Regions from separate parts of the Homo sapiens genome. Here region 2 is linked to region 1. The links come from fine-mapping of genetic effects on gene expression. Tissue or cell type: whole blood. Region 1 holds a variant in brackets; the other region holds the start of a gene. All regions are shown on one strand. Distances are between the middles of the regions.

Region 1 (5,321 bases):
TTGAAAATGTTGAAACAGAAGAAGAACTGCAGATAACCAATACTTGTGCCCTCTTGAGCTTTCTATAAATGAATTTCTCCAATGGTCAATGTCTTGTCTGTTTCCTACAGACTGCTTCACCCTGCTTCCTGGTGTTGGCAGAGGGGCTTTCTCCTTAAACCTGTTGGTGTGGGGGAATTTCATGAAGGATGTGTTAGCTTGGACTTCCTTTGATGGTGATGCAGTTTATCAACTTAAAATGATATGAACTCTGAAACACAGGGCTTTCTACCCTGTGGGCAGAAGGCTGGGGATTTGCAGCCTGAGAATAGCCCTGGCAGATTGGAGCCAGAGTTAGAAAAGGATGCCTGAGCTCCTCCTGACCAAAGGATGCCAGCTGGCTACCTTGCTGGGTGCTAGGGGAGCAATTGATATTTATAAAATCTGTGAAGTTGATTTTTCAAAAATTTTAACATTATATAATGTATTTGAACATATTCAAACACTTTTTTGAGACGACCTTTTAAAATCTGTAAAGTAATGAATGCCTGCTGTCTTATAAAAAACTACAGAAAATGTAAAGAAATAAGGCCAGCTACAGTTTTACAACATAAAGAAACCACTGTTTATATTTTAATATATTCCTCCGTGAATCTTTTTTCATCTTGTGCATTGTTTACATAATTGTGCTGTCTTTCATTTGACTGTAATGGGGGAGTTCTTTGGGAGGGAGACTCCAAGGCCTCCTTGATGTGGATGGGCCCGGAGCCTGGGCTGCTACTGTAGGGGTTCTGGGCTGGCCTAGCCTGAGAGACCTCCAGCCTGTTCACAGAGCCCATGTGAGATCCCGAGAGGCCCAGAACTTCTTAGACAGCTCTTTTTAAGCTGAAGGCACTTTTTGCAGGAGGCAGTAACATGATTGTCATCCTTATAATTTGCCTGTTAATTGAGCATTTCCCAAGTATGGGGCCCTGCACTAAGTACTTTGCACATATTCTCTTAACAGTAACCCTACGAGGGGGCCACTGTTGTCCCCATTTTCTAGCCCAACATCGGAGTTTAATTAGTCTGCGCTTGTCACATAGCTAGTAAATTGTGGAGCTGTTTTAGACCAGGTGTCCCAATAAGCACTTTGTAGTTGAGGCATGTTAACTCTTTAGAACTTTTTGGTTTTCAAAGCAACTCTTAATTGCTGCTCCTGGGAATATGCAGGGCAGATGGAAGGAACCTCTATTTCCTAATTAAGAAACGGACACCCAGAGAGCTGATCACCATTAATCCAAACTACAGGAGTCACGGGTAGGTGGGAGGCTCAAGGTTAGAACCTGGCTCTTCAAATTTGTTTTTTCAGGCCAGGCGCGGTGGCTCATGCCTGTCATCCCGGCACTTTGGGAGGCTGAGGCAGGCGGATCACCTGAGGTCAGTAGTTTGAGACCAGCCTGGCCAACATGGTGAAACCCCATCTCTACTGAAAATACAAAAATCAGCTGGGCTTGATTGTGCATTCCTGTAGTCCCAGCTACTTGGAAGGCTGAGGCAGGAGAATCACTTGAACCCGGGAGGCGGAGGTTGCAGTGAGCCGAGATTGCACCACTGCACTCCAGCCCAGGTGACAGAGTGAGACTCTGTCTCAAAAAAAAGTTCTCTCTCTCTCTCTCGATGGATGATCTCCCTATGTTGCCCAGGCTGGTGTTGAACTCCTGGCCTCAAACAGTCTGAGGAAGGAATCGTGGGGCAGGCTGAGATGAAAGCCTCAGGACTTGAGTGAACAGAAGGGCAGGAGTAGAATGTACTAGGTAGGGGCCCATCAGCAAAGGCTGGGCTAAGACCCTGTGGGACTTGTTAGGGGGTGAGGAGCTGCTGGTAGAAGGGCAGGGAAGAGCACTTGCTTGCAGTCTGACAAACCCAGGGCTTGGGGTGTGATATACTTTTTGTAAAAATTGAGGTTACTAAATCCTAGTTGGTGGTTCCCACTGAAAATTAAAGGAAATAATTTAGTTGGAATTGTCTGGCCAGGCATGGTGGCTCACACCTGTAATCCTAGCACTTTAGGAGGCCGAGGCGGGAGGATTGCTTGAGCCTAGGAGTTCAAGACCAGTCTGGGCAACATATCAAGATCCCCGTCTCAAAAAAAAAAAAAAAAAAAAAAAAAAAAGGGAGGAAAAAAGAAATTTCCCAACCTGCATGCTTGGCATATTATAGTGATGGTGCAATCTTTCTGAACTGTCTTACAAACAGTGGGAACCTTCGAAAGCTTTGGGTGGGGTGAGGGAGGGAGTTGACCAAGCCCAGGAATTCTGGACATTAGCATAACAGTGGGGCAGGGAAAGTGGGACCTAAAGTCCAGCCTGGTAGCTGTTTTCTGCAGTTGAAAGAGTGACAGAGGGAGAGGGAGAGAAAGACACTTCAAATGAGTCATCCACTGGATTTGGTGGTGGGCTGGCCATGGGGAGGGATGGTATTATGCTTTGTTCATTGGCTTTTTTATGACTCAGTTTACACTGGTTCCCTCCTGACTCACTGATGTTTCTCTTGTCCTGCAAGGAGCCTGTGTGAAATGCAGCAAAGGGGTGTTTGGGGCTGGCCAGGCCTGTCAGGCCATGGGGAACCTCTACCATGACACATGCTTCACCTGTGCAGCTTGCAGTAAGTGTGGGTGTGGGTGTCGGGTGTGTGGGGGATGC[G/A]TAAGGAACATGGGAACCGAGAAAGGGAGGAGAGAGATCATCTTTCTGGAGACGGTTGGTCCATGGCCCTCCTCAGCCCCACAGAAAAGCCAGACAGTGTCTTTTACAGCAGGGTTTCTTACCACCAACAGAAGCCCATCAGGGCACGGTGACTTAACACAATACCAAAGATTGCCTGTGATTCTGGTGATAAGTTGAATGAGTTCAGAGTGATCCCTAATCACATCAGGTTTGAAATATGTAAGAAGAGGTTTCAGAAGATTTGGGAGGAAGTGCTGGGATTCACCATGTCTACCCTGTTTGTCAGTTCTCTCCCCCACTGTGGGGACCAGCCAACCAAAAGTGATTAGTCAGTCAGCTACCCCAGTGTGAGGTGGAGGTGGGGGTCCTTTATTACTCTGTAACCACCTCCCTAACCTAATCTTTGATTTGGAGGCTGCTGTATGAGCATGAGGTGTGTGTGCATGCCACCCATGTGCTGGTGCCTACCTAGCACACACCTGTGGGCATCTTTGTACTCCAGTACATGCATTATAATTCAAGCAGCCCATCAGGAGTCTGGATTGAATGGATGGCAACCGCTCCCCGTGGAAGATTCTAACACATTGCATGCTTGCCAAGTCTGACCAAGTTATGGATTTTGCTTGTTTTCTGTCTCTATCAAAGATTAATTTTGAGGAGTATTTTTGGAAAATGTCCTACTTATATTCTCAATCCTATACTGAGGCTAACAGCTCTCAACTAAAAGGGAATGTTACAGCAGAGTCACAGGGTGTCAGGAACAAAGGGGTCTTTCTAACCATCTGGCCCCGTGGTTTGCAATCCTGGCTGCTCATTAGAATCACCTGTGGAGACTTTAAAACCCTGCTAATCAGAATCAGAGCTAAATCCTAATCTGATAGGATTAGCTAGGAACCTCAATCTGATTCTGCTAATCAAGGGTGGGGCCAGGGCATCACCCTTGGAATTTCTAGAGTGAGGCAAGTGTATTAATTTTTTTTTTTTTTTTGAGACGGAGTCTCGCTTTGTCACCCAGGCTGGAGTGCAGTGGTGCTATCTCAGCTCACTGCAACCTCCGCCTCCTGGGTTCAAGCGATTCTTTTGCTACAGCCTCCCGAGTAGCTGGGACTACAGATGTGCACCAGCACGCCCAGCTAATTTTTGTATTTTTAGTAGAGACGGGGTTTCACCATGTTGGCCAGGATTGTCTCGATCTCTTGACCTTGTGATCCACCCACCTCGGCCTCCCAAAGTGCTGGGATTACAGGCGTGAGCCACTGCGCCCGCCCAAGTGGGGCAAGTGTATTTTTTCACAGCTTCTCAGATACTTCCAGGGTGTGATCAGGGCTGACTACCATTGGTTTGGGGATCCTCATTTTGAATCCTTCTGGAGAAGGGAAGGGGAAGAACTTGCTCACAGCCAGAGATCCTAATTCCCAGTATAAAGTTAACCAGTGCATTGTGGTTAACCAGTGGCCTCCTAACCTGCTGAGCCTTGATGGTCCAGGCCTGAGTTCTGAACCTCATGCTTCAGTCCTCACTGCAATTTGCCTTAGAACACATGCCTGAGAGTTTATGGTTTACACATTGATCAGTGTTCACCTGTGTAGGGAAAGACTATGAGAATGTCCGCAGTGGAAATCTAGGAGTGGTCTGGTTATCGAATTCTCTGGGTCTCTGTGCCTTTCCTTGTCTTTGAGCTATGTTGCACTCTGTAAGTTGTAGAATATTGATGGTACAACACATTCTTGTCTATAGCAATGCAGACTGTCTGGTGAGGTGCAGTTGATGATTGTTACCCTGTGGAGATTGACCAGTTTTGCAATCTATTTAGCAAATTGATTTCAACATTCCTGATGGCCTATGGTTCTTTGAATTCTCCCCATTAAACCCATTAATTGGTTCCTTTATTAATTGATGAGTTAAATAAAGTCTTTGGCACATGTTTGTGTTTTATCCATATGGGAGTTGTGTTTAGGCCCCCCTTTATTTATTTATTTAGTTAGTTAAATTTTAATTTTAGTTTTAGATTCAAGACGTGCAGGTTTGTTACAAAGGTATATTGTGTGAATCTGAAGTTTGAGCTTCTATTGGTCCTGTCACCCACACAGTGAACATAGTACCCAGTAGAAAGTTTTTCAGCTATTTGGTTTTCTGTTTCTTGTGTTTCTATGTTGCTGCAAAGGACATGATGTCACTTTTTTATGGCTGTGTAGTATTCCATGGTGTATATGTACCACATTTTCTTTATTCAGTTACTGCTGATGGGCACCTAGGTTGATTCCATGTCTTTGCTATTGTGAATAGTGTGGTGATAAACATACGAGTGCAGGTATCTTTGGTAGAAGATGTACTTTTCTTTGCATATATATCCAGTAATGGGATTACTGGGTCAAATGGTAGCTCTATTTTTAGTTCTTTGAGAAATCTCCTAACTGTTTTCCACAGTGGCTGAACTAATTTACACTCCCACCAACTGTGTATAAGCATTGCCTTTTCTCTATAGCCTTGCCAACATCTACTTTTTGACTTTTTAATAATGGCCATTTTGTGGTTTTGATTTGCATTTCTTTGATGATAATGATGTGGAGGTTTGTTTTGTTTTGAGATGGGGTCTCACTGTGTCATCCAGGCTGGAGTGCCATGATGTAATTGTAG
Region 2 (4,660 bases), 42 kb before region 1:
AATCCAGTTTTTAATTAATAAGTATTACCCAACACCTAAGGAGTGTTTAATTATGATTACCTCTGAGAAAGGGGATGGTAGGCAACTTTTAAAACTTTATATATGTCTGTATTGTTCAAAGTTGTTATAGAAACATGTATTACTTGTAGATAAAAAACCAAAAAAAATTTTTTAATAAAAATACTTCATTTTAGTATAGTGCTTTATAGCAGTGCTTCTGTAACTTTATTGTGCAAATAAACCGCCCAGAAATCTTGTTAAAATGCAGATTCTGATTCAGTAGGTTGGCAATGGGGCCTAAGATTCTGCATTTTCAACAAGCTCCCTGGTGATATGGAGTCCATTAACCATACTTTGGGTTTACGGCAGCGGTCCTCAATCTTTTTGGCACCAGTTTCACAGAAGCCAATTTTTTCACAGACGGGATGAAACTGTTCCACCTCAGATCATCGGGCATTAGATTCTCATAAGGAGCGTGCAACCTACATTCCTCATGAGGGTAGTTCATAATAAGGTTTGTGCACCCCTCTGAGAATCTAATGCCACTGCTGATCTGACAGGATGTGAAGCTCAGGCGGTAATGCCAGTAATGGGGAGTGGCTGTAAATACAGATGAAGTTTCGCTGGCTTGCCTCCTCTCACCTCCTGCTGTGCCACTCAGTTCCTAACAGGCCACAGACCAGTACTGGTCAGTAGCCCAGGGGTTGGGGACCCCTGGTTTACAGAATATAAAGCACATTCATATATATTATCTTATTTGTTCTCTGTCACAACTCTGGCAGATAGGGGTTCACTAATTCACTTATTCGACCATTAGGTACTACTATTAATATATACCAGGCACTTGGCATACAGATATGGTCAAATGGAGTGGGAAACCTACCACCCAACCAAACAAAAAAAAACGCATGTTAACCAACAAATAAATAATTATAAATAGTTATCAGAACTGAGCAGGAAGTAAAGAGGGTGCTGAAAAAGAACAACAGGAACCACTCTGAGGAGGCCTCTAAGAGGAGGTGACTTCAGCAGGGATGGGAAAGATGAGCCACTCAGTTTAGGGGCAAGCTCTGGGCAGACACCAGGAAGCTCCTGCAGCTAGAGTGCAGGGAGGGAGGGAAGATCCCTAGATCTGGCCCAGAAGGCTGCGGCAAGGGGCCGATTTCAATTTAATTCTGGGGTAAGCACTGAGGATTTAGGTAGAGAAGTGTCTGTTCTAGTATTTGCCTTAGGATCACGATGGCTGTAGTGTGGGAAATGAAACCTCTCCAGGATCGCCTGGGAACTGGTATAGGGAGTCCCGGGCCATGCGGGGGCGCCAAGGAGTCAGGCCTGGTGTCCCTGCAGCCGCGCGGATCCACTTGCAGATGGGTCCCTCTACGAATAACGAGCCTACTAGGGCACGTGCTTTTACTGCTGCACTGAGGACGTGAAATGCGCGCAGGCACAACGAGACTTTCTTCTTTTTCGCTCTTTCAGAGGGCCCGGGCTCCCATCTACGCTTTGCTGGTTACGTTGGCATGTTGGGCATTTCCCCCTCTCTGCCTCAGTCTCCCGACCTGTCAAAGAGGACGGTGGGCCAGCCATGGGTGACACGCCCGTGCGCCTCTCCAATAGTGCACCTCGGGCAAGCCGGGCGGCGGGCACAGCCTGGACGGTGCCGGCCTCGAGAGGCACAAAGGGCTGGCTTTCCACCGGGGAAACTGAGGCAGTGGAGCGAGGAGCGGCGTCCTCGAAAGTCCTCGCAAACTCCCAGCGCCTGTGTTGGGCCCATGCAGGCTACCCAGGCCGCCCGTCTCCGAGCGGAGGACCCCGCCCAGCGCTGCCAGGGGCGGGGCCGGGCTGAGGACCCGAGGCTGGAAGGGAGGTCGGAGCACCCAATTCGGTCCAGGACTCGCAGGGGGCGGCAGTGGCGGCGGCGAAGTCCCGTGCAGTCCCAGTGCTAGAGCGTGGGACGGACTTGTGGGGCACCCCTCGGTGTTCTCCAGCCAGGCCTGGGGGCAGGAGGCCCAGCCACGCTGCCGGGTGCAGGCCTGCCCCTGGGCGCCCGCCCGCGCGCCGTCCCCGCCCCTCGGCCGCCCCCTCCGCCCCGGCGCGGGCTCGGGACGTGCAGAGCCGGCGAGCGAGCAGCAGGGACTGCGCCTGGCGCACTCACTTCCGCGTCCCGCCGCCCTCCGGCCCGCGCGCGCCGATCCGCCGCCGCCATCGGACAATGGGCCGCCAGCCCCAGCTGCCGTGAACTTCCTGCCGCTGCTCGGCCGCCCGTGCGTCCCGGACGGCGTTCCTGCCAGGCGCCGGCCGGGATCGCAGCTCCGGGGAAGCAGCGGAGGACCCAGCGCCTGGAACGTACCTGCGCCTCAGCCGCCGCGCGTTTGCTCCGGCCCGACTCGCGGCCTCGGCGCCCTCCCGGCCGATTCAGCTTCACCCGGCCCAGTCGGCTGCTGCCTTGCTGTGAGTTTCCGTGTTTGGTTGCCTAAGGAGGATGTGATTTTACTTTTTTGCTGTTTTCTTTTTCCTTTTATAATTTGAAGAGGAGAAAAGAACTCCGCTGAGCAGGCCCGGGACGGCGAAGTGCCACCAGCTACCCCAACAAGGACGTCTCCAGGGGAAAGGGAGTTGGAAGCAAACTTGGTCCAGCTGGCGTTGAGGTCTCAACTTCGGCTGGACTCTTAAATCCTGGGGTCATGCCCTTCACGCTAGGCAGGTGGAAGTCTTTACTTGTACTGGGCCGGACTTGAGCCCCGACCCTTCGCCAGCATCTCCCCGCTGCCCTCAACACACACACACACACACACACACACACACACACACACACACACACACACACACACACACACACACGGCACCTGGGCTAGGCCCGGACACCTGTCTGCAGCATGGATAAGTATGACGACCTGGGCCTGGAGGCCAGTAAATTCATCGAGGACCTGAACATGTATGAGGCCTCTAAGGATGGGCTCTTCCGAGTGGACAAGGGTGCAGGCAACAACCCCGAGTTTGAGGAAACTCGCAGGGTGTTCGCCACCAAGATGGCCAAAATCCACCTCCAGCAGCAGCAGCAGCAGCTCCTGCAGGAGGAGACTCTGCCCAGGGGGAGTAGAGGCCCTGTCAATGGAGGGGGCCGCCTGGGCCCACAGGCCCGTTGGGAAGTTGTGGGCAGCAAGCTGACTGTGGATGGTGCTGCCAAGCCTCCTCTTGCTGCCTCGACAGGGGCACCTGGGGCAGTCACCACCCTCGCTGCTGGGCAGCCCCCGTACCCACCGCAGGAGCAGAGATCCAGGCCATACCTGCATGGCACGAGGCATGGCAGCCAGGACTGTGGTTCCAGGGAGAGCCTGGCGACTTCTGAGATGTCTGCTTTCCACCAGCCAGGCCCCTGTGAGGATCCTTCCTGCCTCACTCATGGAGACTATTATGACAACCTCTCCTTGGCAAGCCCAAAGTGGGGTGACAAACCAGGAGTGTCCCCCAGCATCGGCCTGAGTGTAGGGAGTGGGTGGCCTAGCTCCCCGGGGAGTGACCCACCACTGCCCAAACCCTGCGGGGACCATCCCCTAAATCACCGACAGCTCTCCCTGAGCTCCAGCAGGTCTTCTGAGGGTAGCCTCGGTGGTCAGAATAGTGGCATTGGTGGCCGCAGCAGCGAGAAGCCAACAGGCCTTTGGTCCACTGCCTCCTCCCAGCGGGTGAGCCCTGGCCTGCCTTCCCCAAACTTGGAGAACGGAGCACCAGCTGTGGGGCCTGTTCAGCCCAGGACCCCTTCTGTGTCAGCACCCTTGGCCCTGAGCTGCCCCAGGCAAGGAGGTCTTCCAAGATCAAACTCGGGGCTGGGGGGTGAGGTTTCAGGTGTGATGTCCAAACCCAATGTGGACCCCCAACCCTGGTTCCAGGATGGGCCCAAATCTTACCTTTCCAGTTCTGCCCCGTCATCCTCGCCAGCTGGTCTGGACGGTTCACAGCAGGGTGCGGTCCCTGGGCTGGGGCCGAAGCCTGGCTGCACAGACCTTGGCACTGGTCCCAAGCTCAGCCCCACCAGTCTTGTCCATCCAGTGATGTCCACCCTGCCTGAGTTATCTTGTAAAGAGGGTCCCCTGGGCTGGTCTTCTGATGGTAGCCTGGGATCTGTGCTCCTGGACAGCCCCAGCTCCCCTAGGGTAAGGCTGCCCTGCCAGCCCCTCGTCCCAGGTCCTGAGCTGAGACCCTCTGCTGCTGAGTTGAAATTAGAAGCCCTCACCCAACGTCTGGAGCGAGAGATGGATGCTCACCCGAAGGCTGATTACTTTGGTGAGTGAGAGGCTGGTGGAGTTGCCTATGGTGGGGCGATGGGGTTCTTGAGATTGGGGAACATGCCCCCTACCAGGGATGCTGTGGGCTGTAGTTACCTCTCTTTGAGTGGCCTGTTTTTTTATTTTTTTGTTTTGGGCTTCCTCTTTCAGCTGCTTTTTCTGATTCAGAAACTTGAAAGCATCCTGGGGCAGAAAGCGGACCTTGCAGCTGGGGTTACCCATGTGTGAAGGGTGCAGCAGGGTGGGATTGCTCATGACTGCTCTCAGAAAAGAGAAATGCTGTGACTTTGGATTTCAAGGGTTTTGGGTGTGACTTTAGAGCCTCTTGCAGTGACAGGCTCATATAGGACTTCAGTGGGACCAGCTTTCTCAGG

Evidence for each region. PIP is the estimated chance that this variant, and not a neighbour inherited with it, causes the effect.
Region 2: it holds the start of LIMD1, and the variant in region 1 is fine-mapped to the expression of LIMD1 in whole blood (INTERVAL, PIP 0.94).

What each region holds. Positions count from the first base shown.
Region 1 is chr3:45,633,627-45,638,947 of GRCh38, forward strand. LIMD1 (LIM domain containing 1) reads left to right here. Exons shown (of 8, transcript NM_014240.3): 2 at 2,524-2,625. Among named protein-coding and RNA genes, the nearest start is that of LIMD1, 42 kb to the left of the region's middle. The variant G/A (reference allele first, on the strand shown) is at 2,664.
Region 2 is chr3:45,592,004-45,596,663 of GRCh38, forward strand. LIMD1 (LIM domain containing 1) reads left to right here and starts at 2,748. Exons shown (of 8, transcript NM_014240.3): 1 at 2,748-4,284. The coding sequence starts at 2,877. RefSeq lists silencers at 1,755-2,224, 2,235-2,364 and an enhancer at 2,455-2,624.